2 separate regions of the Homo sapiens genome follow, and region 1 is linked to region 2. The links come from fine-mapping of genetic effects on gene expression. A gene starts in region 2. The other region holds a variant in brackets. All regions are shown on one strand. Distances are between the middles of the regions.

Region 1 (4,395 bases), 27 kb after region 2:
TCCAAGAAAACCCAAAGGCTCTTGGCTCAGCGGGGCCACATTTTCCCCATGGCCCCCACAGTGTTAAGGGAAGGCTCTAACGGTTTGAGTGCCATAGAGATGCTTAAAACAAGGGCAGCGTTTTCAGCAGTAATTACCTCTGCCTCTCCTGTTCTCACTCATCGTCAAGCTGCCCAGCAGAACTTTCCTTTAGAGATGCTACTGTCCGTGGGGTCTGTTCCTCTTAAAAACAGCAAACTTTTCCTTTCTGAAAGCCAGCCCAGGACCCAAAGGTAATTTATTTTAGTGAACAAACTAAGGCCCTAATAAGCAGCATTGATTTTTTGCCCTGGCAATCTAAAACCGTTTGAAGCCAAATTAAATTTTTGTGCTCATGATGGCAAGGTAATATACAGTGAGTCCATAACCATTAGAGCAGCGGCAAACAGGATTAGAGTCCCCAGAGGCAGAAGTTTGCCTGTGATAATGATGGTTTGTATTCAACCTCAGAACCTGCCTAGGGGGTCCCAACATCCTTCGTGAAATGCATCAGATAGCTTCACAGTATTGCATTCTATGAAGAGAAACTTGAAGAGATGTGAGCTGACATTTCATGGAGCTACCAGAAAGAACTGAGGGTCATGCCCCATTAAAAGATCAGGAAATGAATTAAGTAGGCTGTGTGTGACCTGCTTTTTAAAAAATAAAATAGAAAATTAGAGTGCCTAGTAAGTTAAGTATTGTGTGATACTTACATATGGACATGTGTGTGTTTGGGTGAGTTGACCGTGTAATTTATCATCCTAACTGGGACACTTTTGAGAGTACAAGGGGGCTCTAATAATCATCCTGCCAGAGCAACAGCATAAACCAGGACTTCTCTAAGCCAACAAGGACATGCAGTTACCCAGTGACTAGGACCTGGCATAAAATGTATTTGTTACTGAGGGTCATGTTAAAAGACAGTTTCCAAAAGACGGATTCAGTGACCATTGCCTACCCTGCACTCCCCCTCATCTTCCCACATCACCCTTCCTAGTGGCAATTGCTACCCCTAGTAAGCATGTGCTTTTTGCTGATGCCATGCTGACGGCTCTGCCCTCATTTGGAATTCATTCAGTCCTCACCGTGCCCCTTTGAGGCAGGTACTTGCTTCAGGAAGGATTCTTTGACTACAAGGAACAAAAAATCAACTCTGGCTAACTTAAGAGGTCATTGATTGGAAGAGCTCACAACCTCAAAGGTTAGTGGGAGAGAAGGGGGCCAGGTGGCTCCAGGAAGCCTGGGCAGTGGGACCCACTTGCCACGGCTCTTTCCTTGGGCTGGTTCCTTTCTCCTGGCATCATTGTAGCCAAGAACCAGTCCTGGGAGGGCAGCCAGATCTGGGGACACGTGGTGGGTGGGGGAATTCCTCCAAGGAATGGGGCCCTGCAAGGAAGGGAAATGCATCTGAGTGATGGAAACTTGAGCTGGACTCTCAGTTCCAGCTTACAGTGAGGAAACAGCGAGCTGGTGTTCAGCCTGGGCTTTCCCAACCACACAGCCACCGTCAGCCAACCTACTACAGGCAATTGGTTTTTCCCCTACCCTAAACCCACCACCCTTCACCTTTGCCACACCACTCCCCCTCAGAGGAGGACCCTCGCACCTCTCCTTGTGCATAGGGGTCCCAAGTATGCCCCTTCTTCCAGGCAGCCCTCCCTGGATGAGTCAGCTCTACTGTGGGTGGCTCTCTGAACTCCCCCAAGGCCTCACTTTCCTTTTCTTATGGAGATGTTCTGCCTCCCAGCCGGGCTGCAAGTCTTAGGCGAGAACCCTCCAATTTAATTTCCTCCGATTTAATCATCAGTGTACTGTGGTGTAGACAGTGGTCAAAGAGGTGTGGACCACTGCCCTTCTCATTCTCTTACTCACTGTGGATCTCAGTGAAGTGACTTAACTTCTCTGAGCCTTAGTTTCCTCATTTGGGCAACAGAGATAATACGCGGCCCCAGGCTAGGATGGACATTAAAGATCACACATACCAAGCATTAAACTAACCACTCTCCTTAGGTTTTGTATCTTTACATAAGTAATAACTCTCCATTTTGGAAAATCAGAGAATGCAGATAAGCACAAAGAAGAAAATCAAAATCATCTGTAAATTTCACCACCCAGAGAAAATTGCTGTTGACATTTTGGCCCAATGGCTCCAGTTTTGGTCCTGCGCCCATGTTTATTTAGTACCTCTAGCCTCAGGCTGGGAGAATTCATTGAGATAATGTATGTCAAGCGCTTTGCCCAGCACCAGGGTCTATTTTTGTACAACATCCATTCCCAGAGTCACTATCACCTCCTCACGGGTAACCCCCAGATCTCTGCCAGGAGTCCTCACCTCTCTCTGTTCACCTCCAGGCTCTGACTCTGCCCCCTGTGGGCCACTAGACCCTGCATTTCCATCCAAAATTTTAAATGGAACAAGTCCAAATCTGGAGTTATCACCTACCCAAGGCACAGCTTGGGGTTCGCTGTTCCCATCTCTCTGTCTCTCTTTATTTTATCCTTGCTTCTCTTTACAGTTTGGAGCCCAGTTAGCTGCATCTCTTGGCTCCTGCTTGCCCTTCCATTTCACTCAAGCTCAGCATCTCTCCCCGCCTCTGCCAGTCGGCCACATCCTCCGTCATCCAAGGATTCTTTCTAATGCCCTGCTCTCCAGGGTTAGGGGTGCCATGAGTGTGGCCTCGGGAGAGATGGGTAGCCTAGGAAGCCAGAGAGAGCAGATACACAGGTCAGGCTTTCAAAAACATCACAGATCAAGTTGCTAGG[T/C]AGAGAAGACGGGGAGCTGTTAAGGCATTCCTTAGCAAAGACCACCTGTGTCCTTCCACCGCTGCATTTCCAGGGGGAAAGTGTGCTCCCCTGTGACAAAGGCATTTGTGGCCAGTTAGAGTCGGGTGGGTCGTGGTGCTTTGTGTAACCAAGTGGCAGCAGAATTTCGAAGGCGTGTCAGGCTGGAGTCAGGGACCATCTACCAGGGGCCCAGATGGTCTGTCCCCCAAGAGTATCACTCCCAGGACAAGGGTCTGTGCTCTTGACTTGAAAGATGTACGAGGACTGAGAGGGACTCTCAGTCCACAGCCCCACTTGGGAATTCCAGATGCCTGAGATGGGCAGTGGTACAAACTTCCAAGAAGAGAGAAAGCAGGCTGGGCGGGGCTGGGGTGGGGAGGAAACGGCTCACGGTACCTGGATTCGGCCAAGCCTGTTACATGGCCTGGAAGTACCAGGGAAAAGTCTGCTAGGGGTTCCTCCCAAGACAGAGGGATATATTTCAAGGTCCTCTAGCATGCGGACCAGGTGTCATTTTTACATTATGTGTGGGTGCAAATGTGCTAGCACAATACAGGAGAGAGTCAGTCTGAACCTTGATGCAGAGATGGGTTACCCCAGCCAATCCCTTGTCCAAACCAACTCACACATCTAAAAGGAAAACACCACTGAGGATGCTGGCGATGAATTTATGCCTTCATTCTTGCCAGTTTTAATTCTTATTCTTCAAATTAAATTTCGTTGCTTGATGGCATTTGTAACTCCAGTGTGTTGTTCACTTTTCATAACACCTTCCTCTCTCTCCTCTTTCTCTCTCCCTGCCAACACCCCACCACCGCTACCTTCTATCCCCTCTCTTCCCGTCTATTTTGCTGCTCTGCCTTGCCACCCTGGCTCCCCACCACGCCCCAGGTGTCTCTCCTGTTGTACGACTCCACCAGGATGAGGCGGCTGCTGTCCAAGGCCGTGGTGATTGATGACGATGACGATGACGAATACCCCTGGAGGCAGAATGCGCACAGATACTACATCCACCTCCTGCTGAGCCTCTTCCTCTTCCTCTGGTTCATCCTGGGAAACTACTGGGTCTTTTCTGTGTACCTGCCTGATTTTCTTCCCCCTTTCCAGCAGCCTCAGGACTACTGTGACAAAACCCTGTACCTCTTTGCAGTCGGAGTCCTGGCGCTCAGTCACACTGTGCTGGTCTTGCTCCTGCTGTGCAGCGGCTGTGTCTACCTGTGCTCCAGGTGGAGACTTGCTGCCGATGAAGACTGACAGCTGCCTTGTCCAGCATACCATGTATGCATATGCGTGTGCATGCACGCGCGTGCACACAGACACACAGACGCACACACACACACACACACACACAGGTTCAGAGAAGGGCATAAAGGTAATAAAACCTTCCCTGAAGGCATTTAAAAAGCCACCCAAAGGCACTGAATATAATAGCAGACTAAAGAAACTCTTGCCTTCCTAGACATGGGGAAATCACTTCTGCTCTTTTCAGAGTGGGAATTTTGTTCTCACAAGAGTTTTCAAAGGGATAATTGTTTTTGAGGGTATGAAGTGTGGGAGGCAAAGAATGGGAGACCTTTTCAAATCATAGTG
Region 2 (4,395 bases):
CTTCCTGAACTCCCAGGAAGACTGCCTCATCACCTGAAATTTTGTTTGTTTTGATGTCAGGGCTAAAATGTGCTCAAAAAAGACTGCTGCCCCTTTTTGGCCACGTCCAGGCCAGGCTTATGGTCACCGTGTGCTCCCAGACCCCCACCACTTTGGCAGGGAAGCCTTAAGACTCTGACCTCACTGCTCACAGTCACTCTGCTTCCACTCACTCAGTGTGAGATAAGAGAAGATTCAAGTACCGTCATGTATCACTGAACCATGGGTATATGTTCTGAGAAATGTGACATTCGGCAATTTTGCCATTGTGTGAAGGTCATAGAATGTATTCACACAAACTCACATAGTATAGCCTACTACACACCCAGTGGTCCCCAATCTTTTTGGCACCGGAGACCAGTTTCATGAGGGTGGGGATGGGGAAGGTTTTGGCATGAAACCGTTCAACCTCAGATCATCAGGCATTAGATTCTCATAAGGAGTGTGCAACCTAGATTTCTGGCATGCACAGTTCACGAAGGATTTGTGCCCCTGTGAGAATCAAATGCCGTTGCTGATCTGACAGGAAGTGGAGCTCAGGTGGTAATGATTGCTCACCTGCCACTCATCTCCTGCTGTGGGGCCCGGTTCCTAAAAGGCTAGGGACCAGTACTGTTCCCAAAAGGCCAGAGACCATGGCATGTTACTGTATTGAATAATGTAGGCAGTTGTAACACTGTGGTAAGTATTTGTGTATCTAAACGTAGAAAATACTACACATAGTATTTGTGTATCTAAACATTGTGTACAGTAAAAATAGGATATGAAGGATTAAAAAATGGTGCACCTGTATAGGGCATTTACCATGAATGGAGCTTGCAGGACTGGAAGTTGCTCTGGATGAGTCAGTGAGTGAGTGATTAGTGAATGTGAAAGCCTAAGACATTACTACACACTACTATAGCCTTCATAAACACTGTACACTTAGGCTACACTACATTTATTAAAAATATTTTTCTTTAATAATAAAGTAACCTTAGCTTACTGTAACTTTTTTACTTTATAATTTTTTTTAATTTTGACTCATACATTAGCCCATACATTATACATACATTACATTAGCCTAGGCCTACACAGGGTCAGGATCATCAATATCACTATCTTCCATCTCCACATCTTGTCCCACTGGAAGTTCTTCAGGGGCAATAACAGGCAGGAGCTGTCATCTCCTATGATAACAATGCCTTCTTCTGGATACCTCCTGAAAGACCTGCCTGAGGCATTTTTACAGTTAACCTTTTTTTAATATATATAAGTAAAGGAGTACACTCTAAAATAATGATAAAAAGTATAGTATAAATACATAAAGCAGTGACTTCGTTGTTTTTTATTACTGTAAAGTATCATGTGCTGTACATAATTGTATGTACTTTACTTTTATGTGATTGGCAGTGCAGTAGGTTTGTTTACACCAACATCACCACAAACACATCAGTAATGTGTTGCACTACAACATTATGACTGCTATGACATCACTAGGTGATAGGAATTTTTTAGTTCCATTATAATCTTAAGGAACCACCATCTGTGTGGTCCATCATTGACTGAAACATTGTTATGTGGCTCATGACTGTGACTGTATGTCCTTTCCTCTAGCAGGCTCTCCTCCCCTTGCTCCTCTGCTTCACCCTGTCCTGTGGTGTGAAGTGGTCACCTTGGATTCAGGACTGGGAGAGTGGCAGGGCCAGCCCTAGAGTGAGCCCGGAGAGGTGCCCTCCTCCCAGGGGTGTGCAATGCAGGGGTAGCTTCAGAGGGAGCAGCTCCTTGCATTTTACATAATAGGCTCTTCTCTTGCCTCACACCAGTCCCTCCCCCAGTCCCTCCCCAGTAGACTGGCCTTTTCCACCGAAATGACAACAAAAAACCTGGAATGTCAGGGTTGGAGAATGCCTTTAAGTCATGTGACGCCAGTTTCTCTAAGTGTGGTCCATGGAGCACCTACAGGAGACTTAGCAGAGTCTAAACTGCAGATTCCTGGGCCCAGGCCCAGACCTACAGATTGAGAATCTTTGGGAGGTGGTACAGGAATCTGCATTTCAATAAAGAATCTCTGGCACTTCTTATAAATCAGCAGCTGAGAACTTCTACTGCTAGGTGCTTGCTTACAATACAGACACACAACAGCCTCACAAAGCAGCCTGCTTCAGGTCTAAGAAGGCCACTGTTACAAAGTTTATGACATGGGGCACAATTCAGCCTTCTTGTAACTTCATTCTATCTCAGATCTGGCCGTCTGCAATGACTCGGAATCAATTTAATCCCTTTTCTACGTGGCAGTCCTGAAGTCCATAGGGCACCTCTCATTACCTCAGCCCACTTTGAGTACCTTCACACTCTTTCCTAAGCAGCCGCTGTTCGGTCCACCCTTTCTCGTGTGCCACCAACATGCAGGGAGGGCAAGGGGTGAGAAGGGGCTCGCACCAGAACTAAGTCCCTAGGTTTAGTGCCTAAGGGACTGAAATGAAATGTTTCCCGCGGGAATTCCTAACTCCAAGGGGTCGGCCATGTTTCCACAGCTCCCAGGGTCGCTCTGCTGCCCCCCTGCGGGCCTGGGGAACACTGCAGGGGTATGAGCCGGCGGTGGGGCTGCTCTCCCCACACGTGGGAGTGGGAAATGGAGAGAACCCGCCCCTTAGAGGAAAAGCCACGAGTTGCTGTTGTGCTGCAGGAGAGAAAGGGAGAAAGAAAGCGTGCGACAGGGAGTGGGAGCCCCAAGTCAAGAGGAGCCCCACAGAGGCAGCCCTGGACTTCGGGACCACAGAGGTGCTGAGTGCTGCCCGATTCTGGATCCCACTCTGCTTAGCTCAGGTGAGTCCGGCAACCCTGGGCAGCCTGTGAAGTTGGAGAGACAGTCCTAGCAGAGGGTTTCTTGAAATCATTCTTAGGAAGATGCCAATGTGCTGATTATGCTTCCTGGAAAGAAAATGACTACATTGTGGAAGTGCTTTTCTTAATTGTGTGGAGGGAACGAAAACAATCTTCACTGAGTCTAAGGGAGATGGGTTTTCTGGAGAAGAGAACAATCGTAAAGGAATAATTAACTGCAGGGCGAAGGCAAGTTGTGTGGGACTCTTAGAAACAACCTACCGGCTGCAGGACAGCGAGTGGGGACCACAGGCATCACCTCCATGTCTTACCTATTGGGGCTGTGAGCAAGTGGCTTTGACTTGGTCATTTTAAAGGGGTGGTAGAGCTCAAAGGAAGTGCATTTTTCATTTCCTAGGAGCCAAACAATGAAGGCATCCTAGGGAGGTTGTGGAATGACTCTGAGACACAGTAGGTATGCGATAACCTCCACTGAATTCATGCATTCGGGCATGGTTAGGAGAGAAAACAGCACAGGTTACACAGAGAGCTACAGATAAGAAAGGACTGTGTCCTGAGCACCCGAAATGTTTGTTGAAAATATTCAACAATACTAGTTAACATCTGCTTTGAAGGAACAGGTATGGGGATGGTTAATGTCTAATATTCAATGTTATTCAAAACCAAGAGTGAGTTGGTCCTCACAGCTGATTTAGGAATAAATAGTTTAATTTACCAAGCCAATCAGTAAAAACACAATCATATATATATATGTGTGTGTGTCTACACATACACACATATATATACATATATATATGTTTACTGTTGATTCATGACACAACTCAGAGGTTAACAAAAGTAGAATTTTACAAATTTGAACTCTAAAACTGGGAATGTTAGACAGACATAGAAAGTTTCTCAGACCTAGTCCTATTGACATTTTGGAGCAGATAAGTGTTGTTGGGGACTGCCCTGCTCCTTGGAGGATGTTTTTCAGTATCTCTGGTCTCTTTATCGACAGCCCTGCTCCAGCCATGACTATTAAAAATGTCTCCACATATTGCCAAATGTGCCTTGGGGATCAGATCACCTCTGGTTGAGAACCACTGAGATATATCAATTGGACTGAAAATTGAAAATGCATTGAGCATATCATTTGGCAATTATTATTGATTAATTCCCATCGTGCCCTTTATTATCACTCAGCTGCTAGGAGAGGAAGCAGCAGGGGCTATTATCACTGCCCTTCTAGGTGCAGAGGCAGGTGTGAGACACACAGTCCTATCACAGCATGCCCAAGGATAGACTTGTAAGTCACTGTTTGTTCACACTGGAGAGAAGGCACTGCCCGGCCTGTTACCCCAATCTCTTCCTGTTTCAGATTTCTAACAAATAAGAAAACTTTCTATCAAATAAGAAAAAATGTACGTTTTCTTAGTAGAAGATATAGAAGGTATAGAAATTGACTAAAATCTGTGTCATTACAGATTTTAGTCAATCATTTAATGGATTGCATTGACATGAATCCATCATTAGTATGTATTTGCTCTA

Which allele goes with the higher level. Alleles are on the strand shown, and positions count from the first base shown. SD is a standard deviation of normalised expression in the study named.
For the expression in CD4 T cells of the gene that starts at base 2,686 in region 2, allele C in region 1 goes with a lower level than allele T (moderate effect, 0.62 SD a copy in BLUEPRINT).

What was found. PIP is the estimated chance that this variant, and not a neighbour inherited with it, causes the effect.
Region 1: its variant is the best candidate, but not a certain one, in a credible set for the expression of TMEM272 in CD4 T cells (BLUEPRINT, PIP 0.86).

The regions. Positions count from the first base shown.
Region 1 is chr13:51,816,415-51,820,809 of GRCh38, reverse strand. It overlaps TMEM272 (transmembrane protein 272), which reads left to right. Exons shown (of 5, transcript NM_001351003.2): 5 at 3,697-4,395. The coding sequence ends at 4,059. Among named protein-coding and RNA genes, the nearest start is that of DHRS12, 14 kb to the right of the region's middle. The variant T/C (reference allele first, on the strand shown) is at 2,785.
Region 2 is chr13:51,843,468-51,847,862 of GRCh38, reverse strand. TMEM272 (transmembrane protein 272) reads left to right here and starts at 2,686. Exons shown (of 5, transcript NM_001351003.2): 1 at 2,686-2,847.